3 linked regions of the Homo sapiens genome follow. The protein of the gene in region 2 interacts with the protein of the main gene of each other region in a biochemical or structural test. Each region holds a gene or a part of one and is shown on either strand. Other genes may lie near its edges.

Region 1 (7,101 bases), on a different chromosome or scaffold from region 2:
CTTCCATAAATAGCAAGAATTGACAATAATCGTAAAAGAGAACAAAGGTGTACTCATTTTCTAGGAATTGTGGGGATCTGAGATTAGGAAAATATCCCTTCTCATTGAATAAACCTTGACATTTGTGGAGCATTCAGAACTCTATGCCTTCTTTTGATTTCCCAAATTCATGTTTGCATTTGACATAGGAGCTCTAAGGCATGTGGACAAGTGTCGTATTGTATTTGACAGATGAGGAAACTAAGGCCAAAGGTTTGGCCAAAGTCACCTGGTGGGTTAGCAGGGGACCCCTCCATGCAGCTTTCCGTTGTGCCATACCTACTAGTCCCCACTAAGGTCACATGAGCCTTACTTGTTAGCAGGCCACCAGGTCACCCTCCAATGCCACCTGCCCTCTGGGGTACTTTATTCCATAAGGTGCCCACATCAGGATCTTCCCTCAAGCTGGACAGGACAACTTCAGGCACACCACAGTGTTCCCAGAGCAGACCCTCAATAAGAATCCCTGCCCTTTGGTACAGTGGCTCACGCCTGTAATTCCAGCACTTTGGGAGGCCAGGGAGGATAGTTCGCTTGAGGCCAGGAGTTCGAGACCAGCCTGGCCAACACCGTGACATCCCGTGTCTACTAAAAATATAAAAAATTGGCCAGGCGTGGTGTTGCATGCCTGTGGTCCCAGCTACTTGGGAGGCTGAGGCACGAGAATTGCTTGAACTCAGGAGGTAGAGGTTGCAGTGAGCCGAAATGGTGCCACTGCATTCTAGCCTAGGTAACAGACTGAGACCCTGTCTCAAAAAAAAAAAAAAAAAAAAAAAGACAGAAAAAAAGAAGAAAGAATCCCTGCCCCTGCCCTTTGGGAAGGGGAGGGCTATTTGTGTGCTCTCAGGACCATGTCTCAAACATCAGCACTGGCAGTGAGGAGCTTTCACCCTTCTACAGAGCAGTAAGGGACTGGAAAGAACAGACACAGCCCAGGCCCTCATCCCTCCCATTCCTGTATCCATGCACAAGTACCACATGGGTTTTTAGGAGTTTGGACCACAATCAAGGATAAGAAGAAAGCATCCCTGACCTTAAAGAGCTAGGGAGACATAGGAGCAAATCCTTTCAATATGGTGTGATAAATGACAGGGTAACAGTGTGATCACAGAGGAGGGAGAAAACAGGGAAAATGAAGGGACAGTCATGTTTCGGGGGCAACTGGGAAAGAAGAATAGGAGAAGCTCCTGAAATGGGCCTCAGAGGATGCACAGAAATTTGCAAAGTGGGAACAGAGAGCCCAGGAGGGATTGCAGTGTTGGGCAGAGTCTCAGGTCTGGAGTGAGAAAGCTTGAGTTCCAGTCCCAGCTCTGCCACTCACTAGTTGTGTGATCCTGGGCAGGTCACTTTACCTCTGTGAATCTTAGTTTCTGTACTTGTAAAACAGGAGTTGTCCTGACACCACCTTTAAAGGTGGTTGGGGACAGTCAGGCTAGACAATACTTTTGAAAGTGGTTTTTAAACTGTAAACAAAAAGAATGTCAGTTCTTAGTTGCTGGGGATATCTATATTTACTACTCCTCTGGGGAAGGGATGAAGATATCCCGAGGGAAGATAGACCCATGTGCTGGGGTCAAACTCATGGCCTCTGTCCTGGGAGGGCCTGGCTGGGAACAGGGAGATTCCTTGTTTCCCTAAGCCTGGAACCCATTTCTAGGACACAGAGGGCCCATTGGCACCCGGCTTACCTGCAGCTTTGATGGAGGACTTACGAGCTGTGTGCCGTCTGAGATCCACAGCCTGCTGTACCTGGAAGGCCCTCAGGTCCTCTTCGTCCAGGGCAATGTCCCCAAGAAAGGCAGCTAAAGAGAAAAGAAGAAGCCAGGGCTGAGTTAATCCTCCTACCCAGCCCTAGGTGCACCGTGCTTCTAGCCCCAACCCTGTGGGCACCAGCCCCCAACCTCCACAGCGACTGTGATCCTCAAATGCCATCTGAACGAGAAGGAGAAGGGCAGTTAGGGATCAGCTTATAGAATTTCTTGGGAAGCTCATGCTTACTTTTCAGTTAAAATCCCAGTAAAGCTGATGCTCAGCCCCTACCAGTCTGTTAGCTCATCATTCTTTGGGGAGTGTGGGGCAGATAGGGTCTCACCACTGTGCCCAGCTAATTATTTAAAATTAGCAGGGTCTTGCTATGTTGCCCAGGCTGGTCTCAAAATCCTGGCTTCAAGTGATCCTCCAGCCTCCTCAGCCTCTCCAGTGGCTGGGAATACAGGTGTGAGCCACAGAGCCATCATTCTTCAGCAAATACTTAGTTAACATACTACTGTGGTCCAGACAATACCCTAGTTATTAGCAAGACAGAAGAGGCCCCTGCTTCGGTGGAGCTAACCTTCCATAATATGCAAGTAAATAAATACTGACCTAGGGTCTTCCAGATAGCAATGGGAGCTATGAAGAAAATAAAACAGGGTGTGCTGAGCATGTGGTGGTCACTCAGCAAATGCTGTTTCAATTTAACTAAGGGGGTGTCTATGAGATAAAATAAGCCAGGTGCAGTGGCTCACACCTGTAATCCCAACACTTTGGGAGGTCGAGGTGGGTGGATCACTTAAGCTCAGGAGTTCAAGATCAGCCTGGGCAACATGGTGAAACCCCGTCTCTATAAAAAATACAAAAATTAGCCAGACATGGTGATGCATGCCTGTAGTTCCAGCTACTCACTCAGGAGGCTGAGGCAGGTGGATCAATTGAACCCAGGAGGTCAAGGCTGCAGTGAGCTGAGATGATGCCACTGCAATCCAGCCTGGGCAACAGAGTGAGACCCTGTCTCAAAAAAAAAAAAAAAAAAAAAAAGAGGAAATAAAATTGTACCATTTTTCATTAGAACAGATAAGCATCTTTGGGAAACGAAGATACCTTCTGGGAGCTTCCCAGCTAGGAGGAAAAAGTTTAACAGTTCTCAAGTAATTCCTATTCCAAGTCTTAGGCTGCCCAAGCAGAAAGGCCAGAGGGGAAGAGAGCCTCCCTAAAGGGCCATTCCGATTCCAGTATCTGGAGCTGAGGAGGGATGTTTCCAGAGACCCGGCTGAACTGTCTGTCTTCCTTTTGAGAAGTCTGGAGAAAAGGAAGCAGAGGCCATAGAACTGGCCGCTTTGTAAGGCGCTCAGATGGGAGCTGCATGCTGAGCTGGGCTGGGCTGGGGGAAGTGGGAGGCTGGGCTACAGGTGGGACCCACAGCAGCTTCCCTGCAGCTCCACCCACAGCAACATCTGCTTCTCATCCAGGCAGAGTGCTATACAGGCCTGGCGGTCGCGTTACACAAATTGTTTTAACCTTGAAGACTTCTACACAGGTTTCTCCTCCCCAGTTGGCCTCACTGGTGAACACACACACACACTGACTTCATCACATACAGAATCAGACACCCAAGGTTAGTGTTCCTACAGACATATGGTGGCGTCCACACCCTTGCCATCCAGTGCAGAGCCATCAAAGCCAGGGACACACATCCTTGCGCATGAAAGCAGCAGCCAGCACTGCACTTTCAGGCGGGAGGCACTCCGGGATGTTCGAATGAATGAATTGCCACGCTGATATTCTTCTGGCTTGCAAATACATGCCCAGAGACACACCCTCACCTAGACAGGATCAACAGAATGTGGGAGTGACTGTGGCAGTCATCGAGGCCAAACTTCCATTTTATAGATGAGGAAACTGAGGTCCCAAAAGCAACAACTTAACTGAACCTACACTGCTAGTCACTGGAAAACTGGACGTATAACTCAGGCCTCCCCATTCCCAGTGCAGCAACCACTGCACTCTCTAGAACCCCTACTGTAAATACATATATACAAAAATAGATACTCAGACGGACACATCCACAACAAAATACACACACAGTCACACACGGTTTTTAAAAAACACACATGCACAAGCTCCAACATACACAAACCAGCTGCAAGCTCTGGACCCATTAAGCAAATAATAGTCGTGATAATGACACCTTATGTAAATGTTGAAATTTTTGTGGTGCTTTCCAATTGGCAAAGTGCTTTCCCATTAATTAATTTAATCCTGGCCTGCCCACAACATGCCCAGTAAGCCACACTCCACACCATGCTCTTGCAGAGCATTAGAAACTCTCAGAGAGAGATAACCTAAGTGGCTAGGTTTAGGTTCCAGCCCACCTCCCTGACTTTAGACATCAGAACACTTGAGCCTATGAAGGGCGATAACTCACTCAAGGTCACCAGCCAGTAAGTGACCCCAAATCTCTTCCAACCCATGAGAAAGCTACTCTTACTTGAATCGCCATCCTCGGCAGGTGGCCTTGGCTCAGCAACTGATGGGACGGCAACAGAAGATGCTTCCCAGGTGACATGCAAGAGTGGCCTTAACAAGGACATGGGATGGGAGGTACACTCCAAGGAAGAAGCAGTGGGTTCATACTCACCAAAGTTCACGTAGATGTGCATCTGCCACACGAATGCCTCCACACTTAGGCTTGTGTTATACCTTTCTTTCTTTTTTTTTTTGAAATGGAGTCTCACTCTGTCACCCAGGCTGGAGTGCAGTGGTGCAATCTCAGCTCACTGCAACCTCTGCCTCCTGGGTTCAAGCAATTCTCCTGTCTCAGCCTCGCCCAGCTAATTTTTGTATTTTTTTTTTAGTAGAGACGAGGTTTCACCTTGTTGATCAGGCTGTTCTTGAACTCCTGACCACAGGTGATCCTCCTGCCTTGGCCTCCCAAAGTGCTGGGATTACAGGCATAAGCTACTGTGCCCGTACACACATATTATACCTTTCACAGGCATTGTACCTGCAGGCTCCCACACCCAAACCCACAGGCATCACCGCATACAGGTGTGGCTGGACATTTAGACTCACCTTTGGACATAGAGCAAAGGGCAAGGTCTTTGGAGTCAGACAGACCTGTCTTGGAATCCAGGTTGGCTACTATTAGCTGACAAGTCATGTAAACTCTTCTAAGCCTCAGTGTTCTCCTACATAACAGAATCTGTCTCCTAGGATTACTGCATGAAATAAGACATATACACGAACCCCCAGCACAGAGCATGCAACACGGTACGCACCCACCAGCCACTTTAATATTATCCCAACACAACCCGTAAGCTCAAAGTCAGCTCTAGACCTCCTCAGGGAACGCTGGCTCACCCACACTCTCTGCCCCCACTCCTCCTTGAGTGAAACCCTGGTGCAGAGGCCACAGAACTGTGCTGGCCTGCGGGTCCAGGGCCAGTGTAGAACCAGGGCAGAGCAAGTGCAAGGCAGGGCAGGGCATGGCCCTGGCTGCTGAGCTCCTGGAGTGAGGATGTCATGGCTGAAGAATGCGTGGGAACCAAGTGGGGGTGGGGAGAGAGGAGATGGGCAGGAGAGCCTTAGGGGCAGGAGCTGGGCCTTGGGGCTCTGTGCTTTTGGGCTGCCCTCTGGGGAAGCGAGGGAATCTGGATGCTAAGGAGTCTAGGAGGTCTCTCCTTACTCAGAGGAAGCCCTGGGGTCACGGTCAGGGTAGTAGTTATTTTCAACACAAGATAAAAATTTTTTGTGTTGTTTTCCAGCTGTAAACCTGCCAGGAGCACTGTGGCTGAGCCCATCTGTGTGCTTGTGCCTGGGAAGAATCTCACTCTTTCAGGTCAACCTCTGGACTCCACCGTCTCCTCCCCCAGGGCATGGCAAGGCCTCCCCTTCTGGGGAAGTGGGGAGAGGAGGCTGGCTGGTGTAATGAGCCCCAAGGCTATATGTGCAGGACTGATGCATGTCCCACTGCACAAACGCAAGCTTCTAGCTGGGGGATGACACACTCAAACCCCTGCAAACATGTGGATGGACTTCATCACATGTGAACACTTCTGCAGAGGTGCATGTTTGCCTCCATGCCTGCATGTACTCAGGAAGACCGATCACAGGTGAACATGCTTGCCTACAAGGCAGCGACACACCCACGCATATGCACAAACACACACTCAACCACTTCCCCGTGCAGGATCTTGTGTTTTCAAACACACACATAACTGCAGGCATGCACCATGTTTCACAGGCCACACTCCCCAAAGGACAAGGGCGCACTTAGAAATGGACAGGGATGCACTTGTGTGAGACAAAGAGAGCGAGGGAGGGAGAGAGAGAGATTAGCTGACTCCCTTGGATCTCCTTAGGAGGTTCTTAGTGGACTGAGGAGTAGCGCTTCTACTCCCCCGACCGCAATATCTTCTCCCCAGATCTCTGGAGAAACTAGATTTTTTTTTTTTTTTTTTTCACAGAGTCTTGCTTTGTCACCCAGACTAGAGTGCAGCGGCACAATCATAGCTCACTACAGCCTCCAGCTCCTGGACTCAGCCTTGAACTCTCGAGCTCCAACTCCTCCCAGCTAAGCCTCCCAAGTAGCTGGGACTACGGGTGCATGACACCATGCCCAGCTAATTTTTAAATTTTTTTGTAGAGATGGGCATCTTGCTGTGTTGCCCAGGCTAGTCTTAAACTCCTGGCTTCAAGTGATCCTCCCACTTTAGCCTCCCAAAGTGGATTACAGGCATGAGCCACTGCCCCCTGCCTAGACTTCTTAAGAATCCCTTCTTCCTGGGGAACCCCACTGCCCCGCCCTGCCCCATGTAGGGCCCAGGGAGAGTACAAATTTTTTCCTCACCCCTTGCGGCACTGAAATAAGAAGGTGACTCAGGGGCAGGGGCCTGGGTGGGTGGGGTGACTCAGCTGTCTAGAGGGGGAATGTGGTCTGGTGAGAGGAGAGATTACTTCTCGACCTCAGAGGGTGTACCCTAATCCTCTATGGCTCTCTGATGTCCAAACCTTGGCCAGGCGTCCCCCTGGGTGGGATGGGGATGTGGGCTGGTAAGTGCTGCCCCTCCCGCTCCTGCAGACTCTGGGCTGTCAGATGAGGTTGAGGTGGTAGCAGGGGCCTCACTGGCACAGGGTCACTACCCAGCTCTGGGTGTGACATGCTTCTAGCCCCACCCCTGTGGGGTCAGGCCCCTGGGCTTCTCTGATTTTGGGATCAACTGTGTCCCAATTCCTGCCTCCAAGGTCTCTCCGGGGGGGTGTTGGCTAGTCACCTGGGGCAGCCAAACAGTGCTGGGAATCTTG
Region 2 (6,992 bases):
TACCTCGCTCTCCTGAGACTTGTCTCAGTTGTAATTTTTACATTTTTGTTTGCGTGCATGCAGGGGTTGGGGCTGTTTTGGGTGCCCACCAGCGCAAGCGCAGTGCTCGGGACACAGCAGATCTTCAATAAATCTCTGCTGGCTGCAAGCTGGAGGGCGCCGCCTGGGTCCCCTAGGGCAGCCCGGGGAGGAGGGTCGGTACCTGGTCCGGGGGCGCGATGATGTGCCAGGAACAGCTGATGCCCGGGGGGTAATCGGACTCGGGCCAGTTGGGCGTGGTCAGGGTTCCCTGGGCCTTCTCCAGCCGCCCCCCGCAAAATTGGTGCTCTGGGGAGGGGAGAGAGGAGCGGGGGTGGGGGGCGGTGGAGACCCTCGGTCAGCTTCAGGAGAACTCTAGGCTGGGAGCCCCGGCAGGCAGCTCGGATGTCTGGGGCTCAGGATGAGGGGACGAGAAGAAGGGGAGGTAAGATGGGGGCAGGTTAACAGAGAGCGGCCGGGAGGAGCGCGGCTCGGGGAAGTCTGGGGCCGCAGGGCGCACTGGCGGGCGGTGGAAGCGGGAGGAGGAACTGGCTGGACGCCCCCTTCTGGCCCCTCCCCGACCCGCGGCCGCACCGCGCCTCTTCCCCTAGGAGATCCCATCTCCCCGGCCCTGCAGCAGAGTCCCCTTTCAGGCTGGAGAGGGTGTCCTCGACTTGGGGCACAGCCCCCGAGGACCCCTTTAGGGAGGTCCCCGCCTGAAACATTGCAAGGGAGACTTCTGCCGCCAGGAGGGGGTGATGGGACCGCAATCGGGAGCCCAGGGCTGGGTGTAGGGGCCCCCCGGGGTTGGAGGAACCTAGTCCCCCCAGCCCTGGGGTGCCCCCTCGCGCCCGACGGAGGGAGCCCGATTGCGGACGGGGGCCGGCAGTTACTCACCGTCCCAGTAACCCCAGGCCGCCCATTCCACCCGCGGGTCGGTGACCCATTTCCGCCTCGCGCCTGGGGGGGGCCCTGGAAGAGGGATGGGTGGGTGCGGGAGGAGGGGAGAGAAGACGGGGAGGAGGGACTGAAGGGGCGGTTAGTGAGGAAAATGGGTCAGGGAGGTAGGGGGCCCTAGGCACTGGGGCGCGGGGTGGGCGGGGCGGAGGTTAGGGCTGGGGGCGGGGCTGCGGCCGGGGCGGGGCCTGGAGGGGGGGAAGGCGGAGGTGAGGGAGTTCTCACCAGTGCCCGAGGTGGCCCGCCCGCTGTACCAGAGCAGGAAGCCTCGTCCTCCTGTGCCCTCATCCGTCGTCATCCTCAGGGTCACCTGGTTGCCGGGGGCGACTAGGGGCGCAGGCCGGAAGGTCCCACAAAAGCGTCCGAGCCGCTGGCCGGAAGTCCCAGACCCAGCGAAGACCTCCAGAGCATCGTAGCGGCAGGCGGGGTGCAGCTCCAGGTCGAAGACTCGGAATGAGAGGGACACAGTCTGGCCCTCGGGGACCTGATAGCGGGGACAGAGGCGGGGACCCACAGAGTCAGGCCCCACACAACCCAGCCAGAGGGCAGCTCCCCTGCCCCAAGCGTTTCTTGCAGAAACGGACTGAATGGGAAGGGGCCTCCATGTGAGTGCAGAGCAGAGGGCCTGGTCTCTGCAGCTCTGCTGGTAGCCTGTGCAGGGGACAAGAGCTGAGGCTTTGGAAGAGGAGGGAGGGCCGGGGACTGGAGAATGAAGATTTGAGGGAAGGGTTAAGATGATGCGTGTTACGGTGGGAATGATGCCTTCAGTGACAGAGGGAAGACACTTGGAGCTGCCCCAGGTTGAGAAGGTGGTGCGGGGGGGACGGGGGGGGGGTCCCTTCGCAGTCAGGCCTTTTTGCCTCTGAGACTTTAACAAGGGGTAGTGCCCAGAGGGGTTTCTCACCGTTATGGTCCAGATGCACTCCTTATTAGGGGGGTAGAGGTTGGGGAACCCCTCACTTGCCACGTAACCTGATTCCCCCTTCACATCCCCTCCGCACAGGAACACGGGTCTGGAGAACAGAAAAGGGGTCAGGAAAGAGCAGGGACGGGTGGGACGGGGGAGCACTGGCAAGATGGGGATGAGGTGATGAGGATGAAACTCCAAGGAGGGAAGCTGGGGGATGAAATGGAAAGGCCTTGAGAGACCTGGGGCAGCTTCCACCAGCCAGGACAGGGCTGGGGTGTCCCAGACTCCCACAAAGATAAGGGAAAAGTGGGCCTGGCAACTCGACCATCCCTCCAACCCCAAGAGTCCCCACCCCCACCCCAACAGGAATTCCCGGAATCCTCCTCGGCCCCCCTTCCAGACTCCCGCCTCACTCTGCCTGGCAGTCCAGGGACAGGAGCCGCCTAACTACTTCCAGATGTGGACACAGCCACGAGGCGGTGGGGGGGAGGGGGTGGAGAGATGGAGGGAGCTGCAGTGGCGATGGCCCTCTGATTGAACCTGGAGGCCAGGCTCCGCGAGCTCCACACCTTAGCCCTGCCCCTGTTCCAAACTACTTCAGATTCTGACTCCCAAGTCTCCACTCACTGCCCCCTCCTCCCCCTACAATCCCTCTCGAATTCCTTCCTGGAATCCAGCTACCAGGCAAGTTCAGGAGCTTGGCTCTCTCTTGGGTTCTATGGGGGGTCAAGGATCTGGGTGGGTGGGGAGACTTAAGAGACCAGAGGACGAAGGTGGGGGAATGGGAGCAGTGGTGGCCTGCAGGAGACCAAGGTCTTGCAGCAGATGGGGAGGATTTGGGGGCCAGAGAAGGGTGAGGCGGTGGGGAATCTGGGGAGTGGTGTGTCAGCAAGGGAACCCAAAATATCTCCAGGCATAACCCCAAAGGAATCGGGGGTCTGAAGTTCACTGGAGCTGTCTGGAAGATGCCAAGAGACCTACCTGGTGTAGTTGGGGGTCTGGCCCTGGGCAAAAGGCAGCAGGGCGCAGGCAGTGAGGAGGGGCCCCAGGAGGGAGGCTGTGGCTGCAGGCAGCATGGCCCCGGGGGAAAGGCGCTGGGGTCCTCAAGACAGAGGCAGCAGCTGAATTTTGCAGAGCAGCAGCAGCGGTGGCGGCAGCAGCAGGATAATCAGCGCCAGATGGGGCAGCCTTGGGTGTGTGGGCGTGGGGACTGGCCAGTGGGGCGGGCAATGGGGAAGGCGGGACAGTGGCGTGTCCTGGGACCTCTCTAGGTCTAGGACACATAAATGTTGACCTTAGGAGGGGGAGGAGCAGTGAGGGGCAGAGGCCGTCTCCCAGGCCTCAAGTAACGTCATCGGGAACCCCACTCTGTCCAGTGAGGGAGTATCTCCGGGAACTTCTGAGGACTCCCTAGCCCCCATCCTCCCCCCGCCCCTGCTTCCTCAGCTCAGGAGCCCTCATTGCTCACCCCCTGCCTGACCACCCCTGCCAGCTCATTTTCCACTTCAATTTCTTTTTTTTTTTTTTTTTTTTTTTGAGACAGAGTCTCATTCTGTGACCCAGGCTGGAGTGCAGTGGCGCGATCTCTGCTCACTGCAACCTCCGCCTCCCGGGTTCAAGCAATTCTTGTGCCTTAGCCTCCCGAGTAGCTGGGACTGCAGGTGCATGCCTCCACACCTGGCTAATTTTTGTATTTTTAGTAGAGGCAGGGTTTCAGCATGCTGTCCAGGCTGGTCTCAAATTCCTAGCCTCAGGTGATCCGCCCACCTCGGACTCCCAAAGTGCTGGGATTATAGGCGTAGCCACCACACCTGGCCTCCACTTCACATCTCCATTGCCTTCTCTCCAGACCTGGGCCAGACTAGGCCAAGGAGAAGGAATTCTCACCCATGACCTCTTCCAACTACTTGAAGGTACAGGAAGCAAGGCAGGAGGCATGGGGTGTGGATGAAGGGAGTGTCCTTGTTACTCAGGAAGAGGTGGAAGGAGTAGAAAATAGAGCCCAAACCTGGGAGGTAAACAGAAGGGAGAGAGGAGGGGGGCTGGCTTCAGGCCGAAGGGAGATGGGTGGGAAGCTTTCGGGGGTCAGGAGGAACAGGCTGCCTCAGGATGGGGACAAGTCTAGTGGGCAGGGGATCCCAGTGGGGTAGCCAAGAGCATCTGTGCATAGAGTTGTTCCAGAAGGTAGGGCCAGAACTTCCCAGTCCAAACGACCAGGTGTGCTCTTGGGAGCAGGGAGTGGACAACAATGTGAAGGGTTCAGGCAGCATCAGCTCTGCTGCACCTGAGACCTGGAGCTGCTTGTGCTGCCTGCCCCTGCCTGGGCTCCTGCCCTCCTGCACCCACCAAGCCGGGCACCCACCCACCCCATCCCTGCCCCTGTCCCTCCCAGCCCCCAAGGCTTCCACACCAGGCCTCGCTGCAGCCTTTTATTCTATCCATCAAATCTCTTGTCCATGATAGTCAGGTTGGGGGCCCCTCCTGGGCAGCCCCCTGAACATTCTTACCCTGGTTAGCCGTCCCCACCCCCTAGCAACCCCTTCCCACACGCATGTGCACAATGGTCATTGCTCCTTAGTCCCTGGCCTGGGGCCGGACTCCCTCCTCCAGGGACTAGGCTAGCATGAGGGGGATTAGGTCTCAGGGGCTGGGGGCCCTACACCACCCCCGCCTCCTTCAGCCCTCTGCAGCATGTCCAGGGCCTCCCAGAAGAAGTCCTTCTGTGCGGCCATCAGGGGCATCCACCCTACGATCTCCTTCATCTTCTCCGTGCGGTCCTGCAACGTTTGGCAACTGTGGATCTGGCTGAGGTACTCCTCGCAGGCCTGGGCCATCCCCCCGGGGTCCTGGGGTGCTCTGGCCCCCAGGCTGGGCTCAGGAGTCCCCACCACCCTGCTGGCTGGCAGGTGGCGATAGGGGGCGTGCTGCTCAATGTCGTGGCTGGACAGGATGTATAGGCACTCCCTGGTGGCACAGAGGGCACAGGCACACAGAGGGACCTTGGAGGAGGAGAGAAAGGGGGCATGGCTGAGTGGTGCTTTCCTTGCAGGGTTTCCCAGGGTGCCCGGGCTAATCTGCCTATTGCATTCTTCCCTCTCACACCAGCCCTGAGCCGGCTAAGTCCCAGGGGTGTGTGAGGTTGGGCAAGGCCAGCACAGTCTGCTAAGGGAGAAAGCAGAGAGCGTGGTGTGCGGCAGAGGAGGGAGGTGGGGTGGTGCTAGGGAAATGGGACCCCCTGGGTCCCTGCAGGAGCCCCAGCTACAGCCTGTGGGCTTCCTGGTTCATGGCTCTCATCCTCCCTGGGTGCCCACTCTCCTGACCCCGCTCTGACCTTGACTTGGAGCTTGACGAAGGAGGCACTCCCCTTGGGCCAGCCTGGGAGGCGGCCCCCAGCCCCACAGCCGCAGCCCAGCAGCTCCTTGCTGAACTCTGAGCTCTGGCTCAGCACCAGGGAGTGGTTGAGGCCGCACCACAGGGTGATGGGCCGCTGCAGGTAACAAACCTGGGGACACACGGCCAGGGTCCCTGAGCAGGGAGCACCAAGGGACGGGGGGGCTGGGGTGGGAAAAGGTTGACTGGAAGGCTCGGGGCAGAATGAACTGGGGAGGAGGAAATGGGAGCCAGCACTGTCCCACGCCCCAGGTCTGCCCTGCTGACCCCTGCAGCCCCCATACTCTAACTGGTCACATAGGGTCTTGCACTTCTGTTGGTATCTCATCTATGCCCCCAGAAAATCAGCTCCTTGCCTGAGCCCAGGGCCTGCTGTGGTGTACCCCTCATTCTCAGCCCACCCGTCTATGCCAGTCCAGCCTCTCATCCTGCCTGCCAGCCTCGGGGAGACTTGCTTCTTGTGCAATTCCAGGTTAGACCCCAACACCACCCTGAGGAAGGACTTTCCCTTCCACTATCCCTCCCTTCCTGCTCTAGTATTATCTTTTCTTTCTTTCTTTCTTTTTTTTTTTTTTGTTTGAGACAGAGTCGGAAGGCTGGAGTGCAGCAGTGCGATCTCGGCTCACTGCAACCTCTGCCTTCCTGGGTTCAAGTGATTCTCCCACCTCAGCCTCCCAAGTAGCTAGGACTACAGGTCCTTGCCACCACACCCATCTAATTTTTGTATTTTTAGTAGAGAAGGGGTTTTGCCATGTTGACCAGGCTGGTCTCGAACTCCTGACCTCAGGTGATCTGCCTGCCTTGGCCTCCCAAAGTGCTGGGATTACAGGCATGAACCACTGAGCCCAGCCTCCACTCTAGCATTTTTATTTTCTCTTTTCTTTTTTTAGAGATGGGGTCTCATTCTGTTGCCCAGGCTGAAATGCAGTGGTGCAATCATAGCTCACTGCAGCCTTGACCTCCTGGGCTCAAGCCATTCTTCTGCCTCAGCCTCCTGAGTAGTTGGGAATACAGGCATGTGCCACCACACCCGGCATGTGCCTATAATTTTTAAATTTTAAATTTTTAAATTTTCTATAGAGATAGTGTCTCACTATGTTGCTCATGGTGATCTCGAACTCCGGGCCTCCCACCTCAGCCTCTAGCATTTTTTTTTTTTTTGTAGAGACGGAGTCTCGCTCTGTTGCCCAAGCTGAAGTGCAGTGGCACGATTTCAGTTCACTGCAACCTCCGCCTCTCCAGTTCAAGCAATTCTCCTTCCTCAGCCTCCCGAGTAGCTGGGACTATGGGTGCACACCGCCACACCTGGCTAATTTCTTTTGTATTTTAGTAGAGACGGGGTTTCACCATGTTGCCCAGGCTGGTCCCGAACTCCTGGGCTCAGGCAATCCACCTGCCTTGGCCTCCCAAAGTGCTAGGATTACAGGTGTGAGCTAGTTGAAATGCTTAGCCTAGCATTTTCAACTTATCACATAATTCTTTTCCAAAATGGCCACCCTGTTTTTGAAAAAAAAGCTTCTACTTGCTTCCTGCCGCTTCCTGCCTCTCTCTCTTAAGCAGCAGAGTTGGTTACATGACCAATCTGAGGCTGACCACATTACTGTTCCTTCCCACAGCCAGTCTATCCAGCACCTCCCTGGGATCTCGCTTTTCTCTCTATTACATTACTGACATGCTCTCTCTAGAGGCACTTGGCCTCTCAGTGGCTAAATCCCAG
Region 3 (7,577 bases), on a different chromosome or scaffold from region 2:
GACCTCAATTTCCAAATATTGGGGTCATGTTTCATTTCCCATACTCTCCTTCCCCGTTACACTGTTCAGCAGCCCCAAATGCAATCTTACTTTTCATTCCTTCACACACTTGGCCAAAAGAAAGCAGGCAAAAGAACTGTGTTCAGAAAACCCTCAGAAAACATCTGGCAGATCCGAAGATGGAGAAGACAGCAGGCACTTGCTGGTGGCTCCCCCCCGCGCCTGCCTCTCCAGTGGACAGCCGCCCCCTCCCCGCCACGCCTGCATTTCCAGTGGACAGCCGCCCCCTCCCCCCAGCGCCTGCATCTCCAGTGGACAGCCGCCCCCTCCCCGCCACGCCTGCATCTCCAGTGGACAGCCGCCCCCTCCCCCCAGCGCCTGCATCTCCAGTGGACAGCCGCCCCCTCCCCCCAGCGCCTGCATCTCCAGTGGACAGCCGCCCCCTCCCCCCAGCGCCTGCATCTCCAGTGGACAGCCGCCCCCTTCCCCCAGTGCCTGCATCTCCAGTGGACAGCCGCCCCCTCCCCCCAGCGCCTGCATCTCCAGTGGACAGCCGCCCCCTCCCCGCCACGCCTGCATCTCCAGTGGACAGCCGCCCCCTCCCCCCAGCGCCTGCATCTCCAGTGGACAGCCGCCCCCTCTGGCCATGCTCGAAGGATGACTTCCAAATAGGTCCCACCCTGGGAGGTGGAGAGACGTTGGCAAAACTCACTAAGAAAAGTGGTCTCTCCACATGCTTCTAAAAGTCTGTTCTGACAAAAGCAAAATGTCCAACTCCATAGCCTGCTGCTCTGGGCCATCCTCACTCCCACTTCCAACGAGCCGCACTTCGATTAGCGAGGGCAACCAGAGAGGGAAAAAGACAGTGTGGAGGTGGGGAGATGGGCAGGGAGGGAAATGGAACCCCAAGCCCAGTCCGGTGCATGGTCCCCAGGCAGTGCCCTGCCCCAGCTGTCTAGGGTGACGATTCCCCTGAAGGACTCCCTCCTGAGTTTCTGGGGAAAAGTCCCCAGAGGCGCTGAGACAGGGCCTAGTCCCCCGGCAATGGCACAGTCCCTGACCACACCTTCCTTCTCCTCTCCACTTTTCTGGGGACCTCTGTTGTCCCCCACCTTCAGCTAACCCCTGGAGAAACACAAGCCCAGTTAGCCCAGGGTCAGGAGAGAGTTGGTGGCGGCCCAGGGATGAGATCCCAGGTCCTGGGAGCCAGGCCAGGCTCCTGGCTCCTCCCCCAGAGCCCCAGGGCAGCCCCCACACCCAGACTCCAGCTCATCCAGTTAGCCCAACAAGCACTGATCGTGCCAGGGAAAAAGGAAAAGAGTGTTTTAATTGACAAGCGGAACACGGACAATGATTCTTCCCACTTGTCTTCCAATCGTGAAGCAGAGAGAAGCATTCTTGCTGGCAGGCGGCGGGCTGGTCCAGACGTTCGCTGAGCCCACCGTCCCATCGCTCTGCCCGCCACTTCTCCTGACCTGGCAGCACACAGCTCTGAGCCTCCATCTCCCCGCCTGTCAATAAGGATTCGGGGGACCTTCCAGGGCTGGGGGCTCTGATGTTCGAGAGTCTGTGAAAACCCACCCCGCCACTAACTACCAAGAGCGATGCCTAGAAAAACTCCCCCGTCAGGAAGCTGCGCCAGGGAGAGTTGAACCCTCGAGAACCCAGGCAGGGACGCAGACAGTCCCCGCCTTGAAGCGCCCTCCCCGGGAAGCAAGCCTCCTTCTAAGGGCTGACCCTTGGCAGAAGGAATCCCACATCTGCATATCATCCCAACCACTCACAGCCCCGCCTGCAAGCCCATCTCTGGCTTTGCTCCACGCATCCCATCTCTCAGCAGCGAATCCAGGAAAAGCTGCCTTCCAGGGATCAAGAAGTTTGGGGGTGGGATTAGGAGCAGGGCTGTCTACCACCCTGCAGGGGTCCCCAGTGCCCCCGAACACTTAGGTGACCAAGGCTGCAGGAAACGCTGTCCCTGGGGAAAGCAGGGCGCCAGCTCAGCCTAGAGTGACAGTGCCTGGGGGAAGTTCAGTGCTGGGGGCCCAGGCTTCTGGGATTCCCCCCATCCCCAGGAGTCCCGGGATTTGAAGGGCTGTAACTCTAGGGGGCGGCCCTGCCCGGTTTGGAGCAGAGGAAGTTCTGCTGTAGGGCTGTGAGGGCCCAAGCTGGGCGCCTGTGATGTGGGACAGAGAAGGAAGGTTTTTGGGACAAAAGTTTGCCCGCCTCGTGGACAACCCCTCCTGCTGATCCAGCCCTCGGTCCTTCCTCGGCTCGCGCGACAGCCCCACCCGACCCGCCCGTCTGGGGAGGGGGCGGCGGCGCGCCCGCGGGCATTGTGTCTGCGTGTCGTCATCTCGGGGGGGCCCCCAGCAAATGGCATTCGTGGTCTTGGCCCGTGCATTCCACAGGCCAAGGAAGAAAAGTTCTGCGGGCGAAGGCGCCCGGGGATGACAGCGGCGCCCGGGCTGCGCGCGCCCCATCCCGCAGCCCCGCGCCCCGGGGCGCCCTTACCTGCGCGGCTCGGAGGCGGCGCCCACAGCAGCAGCAGCAGCAGCGGGGGCAGCAGCGGGGCGCCCGGGCGGAGCGCGCTGCGCGCTTTCCAGCGGGTATGGACGTCCATGCCGGCGGGGCGCGGGCCGGGGCGCACAGGGGCGCTCGGAGGCGCGCGGGGACGCACAGGGGCGCGGGTCACGGCCCGGGCAGCGCACTCAGCAGGGACCGCACCACTTTAGGAGGTCATGGGGACCTCGGCACCCCCCGTTCTTCTTTGTGGCGGCGGCTGTTCTGGAAGGGGCGGCTGGCGCGCTCGCCCACGGGCGGGAGGGCTCGACTTTGGCCCGCGGGGCGGCCGGGACCCCGCTGGGCTAGCTCGCCCTCGCCTCCTCCTCCTCCTCCTCCAACTCCTTCTCGCCTCCTCCTCGCCGCCGCCGCCCCGCGACCCGCTCCCCGTGGGCGCTCCGCTCGAGTGAGGTCCTGCGCCAGCCGCGGGGACGGAGAGTGCGGACCTCGCCTTCGGCGCGGAGCACTTTTTTCCCCCTTTTCCTCCCTCCCTCTCTCCTGGAAGGCAGCCGCGGAGGCTGTCGATCCCCAACGCCCGCAGCAAATCAGAGCCCGGCGCTGGGCTCGGCGAGGCCAGCCCCCGCCTCCCACTGGGCGCCGCGGGCGAGGGGGTGGGGACAGCGGGCGAGTCGCAGCGAGGAAGGGGCTGGCCCGGGGCGGAGCGGACGTGGGGCGGGCGCGGCCCCCTGTTCTTTCTCTGAGAGCCGGTAGGCGGGCGGGCCTGGGGCGGCCTCGGAGCCCAGGGGCCCACCCTGGTCCCCCCACTGTTCCCACCCCAGGTGCCCGCACCTGGCCATGCTCCAAGAACCAGTGCAGAGGGGCCCCGAGGTTTGATCACTTCGGGTTAAAAAGAAAGTTGCAGTTTACCCCGCCTAACTTTTTCTTTAACGTGGAGGAGTTCAGAGCTCCTCTTCTGGGTGGAGACTAAACTTCCCATCCAGCCAGATCAGGGCGCCCAAGACTGTGGCCTACGTGTCAACCCGGACCGAGGACCTGCCTCCTAACTGCAGATTGGCACGGGACCGAGCTGGGGTCTGACTTCCCAAGAGCTCCCGGGACCTCCATGTGCTTGGACGGGAACATCTGGGTTATTAATCAGGCGAAGTTTGGCTCTGCGGCCCCCAGGCTCTCACCCCTCACTCCTGCCCACTCCCTGGTGGCCCCTCTGCAATAAAAAGGAAACCAAAGAAGGCATCCCCTTGGGAGTGACAGCTGGCGCAGGGAGAAGGCATTCCTGATCGGCTGCTCTCGGAGAAGAGCTGGGGCCCTGATTCTCCTGCCTGGCTTCTTTAAGCCCCTCGGGGTCTCCTCCAGCAGGAGGCCCGCCAGTCTCTGGGTGGTAGGTGGGCGTCTCTCCCTCCAGCTTCCCCAGGCCTGGCCTCCCTGCACAGCCTCCTGAAGCCTGACCCACACCCCTTCCCCAAGGGCTGCAGGGCTAGTTTTTTAAAAGGAGGGAATCAGAATGAATTAAGAACGATTTGCAAACCCTGGGCCATCCCCATTCCCTTTGAACAAACAATTTAGCCAGAGATGCCAGACAGGGCTGGGACTCCCCTCTCCAGTTACATCTCCAGACTGGGCGTGAAATTCCCCAAATGCTCTTTAATTCTCACCATTCTGGAAACAGGAGGTGAGAGAGGCGTCCGAGGTTAGGTTTGCCAGGATAGCCATGGCAGGCTCCGGAGCTGGGTGATAGGTCGCTGTTGCTAACTTGGTGATGAGGCTTTTAGTCTCCATATCTGCCACATGCGCTTGCATAGATATCAAATATTTCGCAGGAAAAGAATGAGAAGCTCTTCACACACAGACGTGGGGAGGTGCTTGAGATACATTCAGTAAAGCAAATGTTAGTTCTGACCTGTTTCCTTGTTGATTTTATTTTGTTTTACAACTTGTATAAGGCATATGTGATCAGGCAAAAATGTGTGTGAGTTGTGTGCATGTGTGTGTTTGTGTGTGTGCCTGTGTGCGTGTCTGTGCGTTGGTTAACCTGCAGCCACTGGCCCTTTACTTTCCCTGTGGACTTCAATGAGTGAGAAATTCCATCAAACCCCAGACTCCGCGCCAGCCCCAGCTGTGCTTGGTCCTTGGAGTGCCCCCGCCCCTACCAGCAAGGCCAGCTTCACCCCTGAAGACTAGGGGTGCTGACACAGGCCATGGCCTGGTTATCAGAAGAGAGTGGAGGCTTTCTGGTTCCAGCTTCTTTTTCCCCAAGCACAAGTGGAGTTCCTTTCTGACAGTCCCATGTGCACATCCGTGCCAGTCAGCAAGCCCTCCTGTAACTCACAGCCAGCATCTAAACTTTGCCCTGAATTAACACAACTGGCGCCTTAAGAGCTGACACTCAAGTGACCACCCCAAGGTCCCCCAAAAGTTGACTTCTCAGCAATGGTAAGATGGCTCAGTCTTGCAGCTCAAGCAGCCATGACAGATGCACTTTATCCTCTCTTGGAGAGCAAGTGGTGCGGTGGCTTGGAAAGCTGTCAAATGTGAGTTTCCACCCTCATCTGAGCCTTGAGTTGGGTGGAGAGATGAGTTTCTATCCCACCAGGAAACTCAGAGAGAAGTCCCCAAACTTGGCGGCCTGATGTGTCAGCCAGGGACTATGGCAGAATGGCCCGGCAGTACCAATCAGGATTCGAACTGTGTTGCCAAGCTAAGAATATCAGCCACATCTTAAGGCTTTTGCCTCACACTCTTCACCCACACGTGCATCAGTTCTCATGCACCGGTAGGGAATACTGGCATCTCTCCCATCCACAGATGAGGAAATCAGGGGCCACAGAGGGTAGGGGACTTACCCAGTTCATCCGTGACAGGGTCCGGATTTGGACCCAGGTCTCCATGCTTGGAGCCCAGTGTGCACTGCCTGCCTCCCCATGGCATCCGGACCACACGCCTGCCGCCAGGACCACCCTGCCCAGATTCAGACAACAGCAACTGGTGCAGATTGTCCCAAACTCACCATGTTCCATGCCCTCCCACAACTGAGCAAAACCAGAGTCCTTGGAAAACTGCTTATTGCGCGCATACTCCTTGCCAACACCGCTCTAGGCTTTAGGGAGTATGTGGTGAGCAAGGTGCCTGGGTCCCTTCCACATTGACCTGCAATGCAGCAGTGACTCCCACGCCCATGCAGAGGTGGCCCCTTTTTTGCATGTGTGTCTTCCTTGTCTTCTGCTATCCATCGTTTCCCATCTAGCCCTCCCCGGCTGCCTGCTCCTGTTCATGGCACTCACCGCAGAAGGCTAACCAGGTCCTGTACCCTGTGTACTCCTGGGCCACCGGGAGCGCCACCACCCATCACTGCGTGTTTCCCACAGTGCCTAGCAGAGAGTGGAGCAGGCCAGGTGCCCTGCACCTTACACGTGGAGTCCGATGGCCCAACTTCTCCTTCCAAGGCTGTGTTTCCTCTCATTTATTTTTCGAGCGGCAGAGCTGTGGTCCGGACAGAGCGGCCATGGCAACCATCAGGTGTTGCTCTCATGTGGACCTGATGGTTCACCACCAGTCCTGAGGGGTCACACCAGCCTCCCAGAGTCACGTCTGGCTGGAAAATGGCCAGCTGCTTCCCAAGACAAAGGCCTTGAGGGGCAGCCAGATTGTCCCTTCTTCTTCTCCTAGACCCATGGAGGAGGTGGAGGAACAAGGTCTTCTTGGAGTGCCTGGAGGCAGATATCTGCTTGCCCTCTAAGCATTTATGGTCCAGAGACTGCTGAAGTGGGCCCAGGAGGGCCTGGGTGAGCCACGGCCTGGCAGAGGGGCTGGAAGCTGCCCCACTCTGTCCCATGCAGGGGAGGAGTTCCCTCTAGCTGCGCAAGGAGAATGCTCTGAACCTGCATCCGGCACCTGGGGCTGCAGCTGTGTCCTTCAGCTGATGTCCTGGGACCAGGCCAACTCCAGAGTCACACAGACTTCCGTTAGAATCCCAGCAGCACCAGCCACTAGCCACATGACCTTGGGCAAGAGGATTCTGTCTCTGAGCCTCAGTTTGTTATCTGTGAATGGGCGGTGAAGAAACTGACCGCTGGGGGGTCCCTGTGAAGCTCAGATGAGAAGGTAGGTGAGGGAGGCCTGGCCACAGTCCCCTCCCTCCCTGCTCCCTGCCGCTGGGCACTCATCCTCTTCTGCCTCCTCCAAGCCCCCTGCCGCCTTCCAGGGCTTCACCTGCTTACCTGCATCATCTCATTCAATGGAGCAACAACCCTTTGAGGCAGGAGGAAGCTGAGGCTCGGAGAGGTGAAACTATTTGCTGGAGGCTGAACAGCAAGGGTGTGGCTAAACCCAGTAGCCCGGAACGCAGCCCTTAACCACCGTGCAGCCTGCACACCAGCAGCAGAGCAAACCAAGGAGGCGCCGGGTCCGAGGGCCGGCCCGCGGCTGACCGCATGTCCTGCCGGTTCCAGGGGCCCAGACCCCCACTGGCCCTAGTTTACCTTCTGACCCATTGGCCTTGACCACTGCTCCATGTGAGCTGTGGCTTCTCAGCAGACCAGAGGCCACCGCTGTGCCCACAGAGCCAGCAGGACTCTCCCTACGTACTGGAGCGGGGCAGATGGGAGGGAGCCCCTTTCAAGCCAGCACTCTCTTTGAAAAATTACTTGGGGAAGGCCGCCACTTTAAAGCCCTTGGACAAAGCATGTCCTTCATTGCCTTGTTTTTGCAGCCTTCTTCAGCCTGTGTCTGCCAAGTGGAGAGTAGAGGAGAGGGTGAGAGAGGGGCCGGGGCCATGCCCCAGGTCACCAGGCTTCCCGGGTGTGTGAGTCAGCTCGGCGGCCACAGCAGAGTGCCACAGATGGGGCAGCTTAGACAGCAGGGATTTATTCCCTCACAGTCCTGGATGCTGGAAGTCCGAGGTTGAGGTGACGGCAGCACTGGTTTCAGCCAAGGCCTCCCTCCTCGGCCTGCAGTCGGCACCATCCCCCCATGCCCTCACACGGTCATTTCTCTGTGTGTGTCTGCGTCCTCATCTCCTCTTCTTTCGGGAACCCCAGTCAGTTGGATGAGAGCCCACCCTA

What was found.
Region 1: the proteins of PCOLCE (region 2) and BMP1 interact in a biophysical measurement, tested with the Homo sapiens proteins (one study listed by IntAct).
Region 3: the proteins of PCOLCE (region 2) and COL5A1 interact in a biophysical measurement, tested with the Homo sapiens proteins (one study listed by IntAct).

Annotation. Positions count from the first base shown.
Region 1 is NC_000008.11:22,168,342-22,175,442, reverse strand, and holds part of BMP1 (bone morphogenetic protein 1 isoform 3 precursor), read right to left. Parts: intron 1,842-7,101; coding exon 1,728-1,841; intron 1-1,727. UniProt on the Homo sapiens protein: Metalloprotease that plays key roles in regulating the formation of the extracellular matrix (ECM) via processing of various precursor proteins into mature functional enzymes or structural proteins.
Region 2 is NC_000007.14:100,598,426-100,605,417, reverse strand, and holds the start of PCOLCE (procollagen C-endopeptidase enhancer 1 precursor), read right to left. Parts: upstream 3,056-6,992; 5' UTR 2,962-3,055; coding exon 2,867-2,961; exon of another isoform or gene 2,252-2,866; intron 1,989-2,251; coding exon 1,880-1,988; intron 1,581-1,879; exon of another isoform or gene 1,460-1,580; coding exon 1,201-1,459; intron 328-1,200; coding exon 203-327; intron 1-202. Other genes in the region: FBXO24 (F-box only protein 24), read right to left, coding at 4,519-4,884, 5,217-5,387. UniProt on the Homo sapiens protein: Binds to the C-terminal propeptide of type I procollagen and enhances procollagen C-proteinase activity. C-terminal processed part of PCPE (CT-PCPE) may have an metalloproteinase inhibitory activity.
Region 3 is NC_000009.12:134,637,231-134,644,807, reverse strand, and holds the start of COL5A1 (collagen alpha-1(V) chain isoform 1 preproprotein), read right to left. Parts: upstream 3,006-7,577; 5' UTR 2,621-3,005; coding exon 2,512-2,620; intron 1-2,511. UniProt on the Homo sapiens protein: Type V collagen is a member of group I collagen (fibrillar forming collagen). It is a minor connective tissue component of nearly ubiquitous distribution. Type V collagen binds to DNA, heparan sulfate, thrombospondin, heparin, and insulin.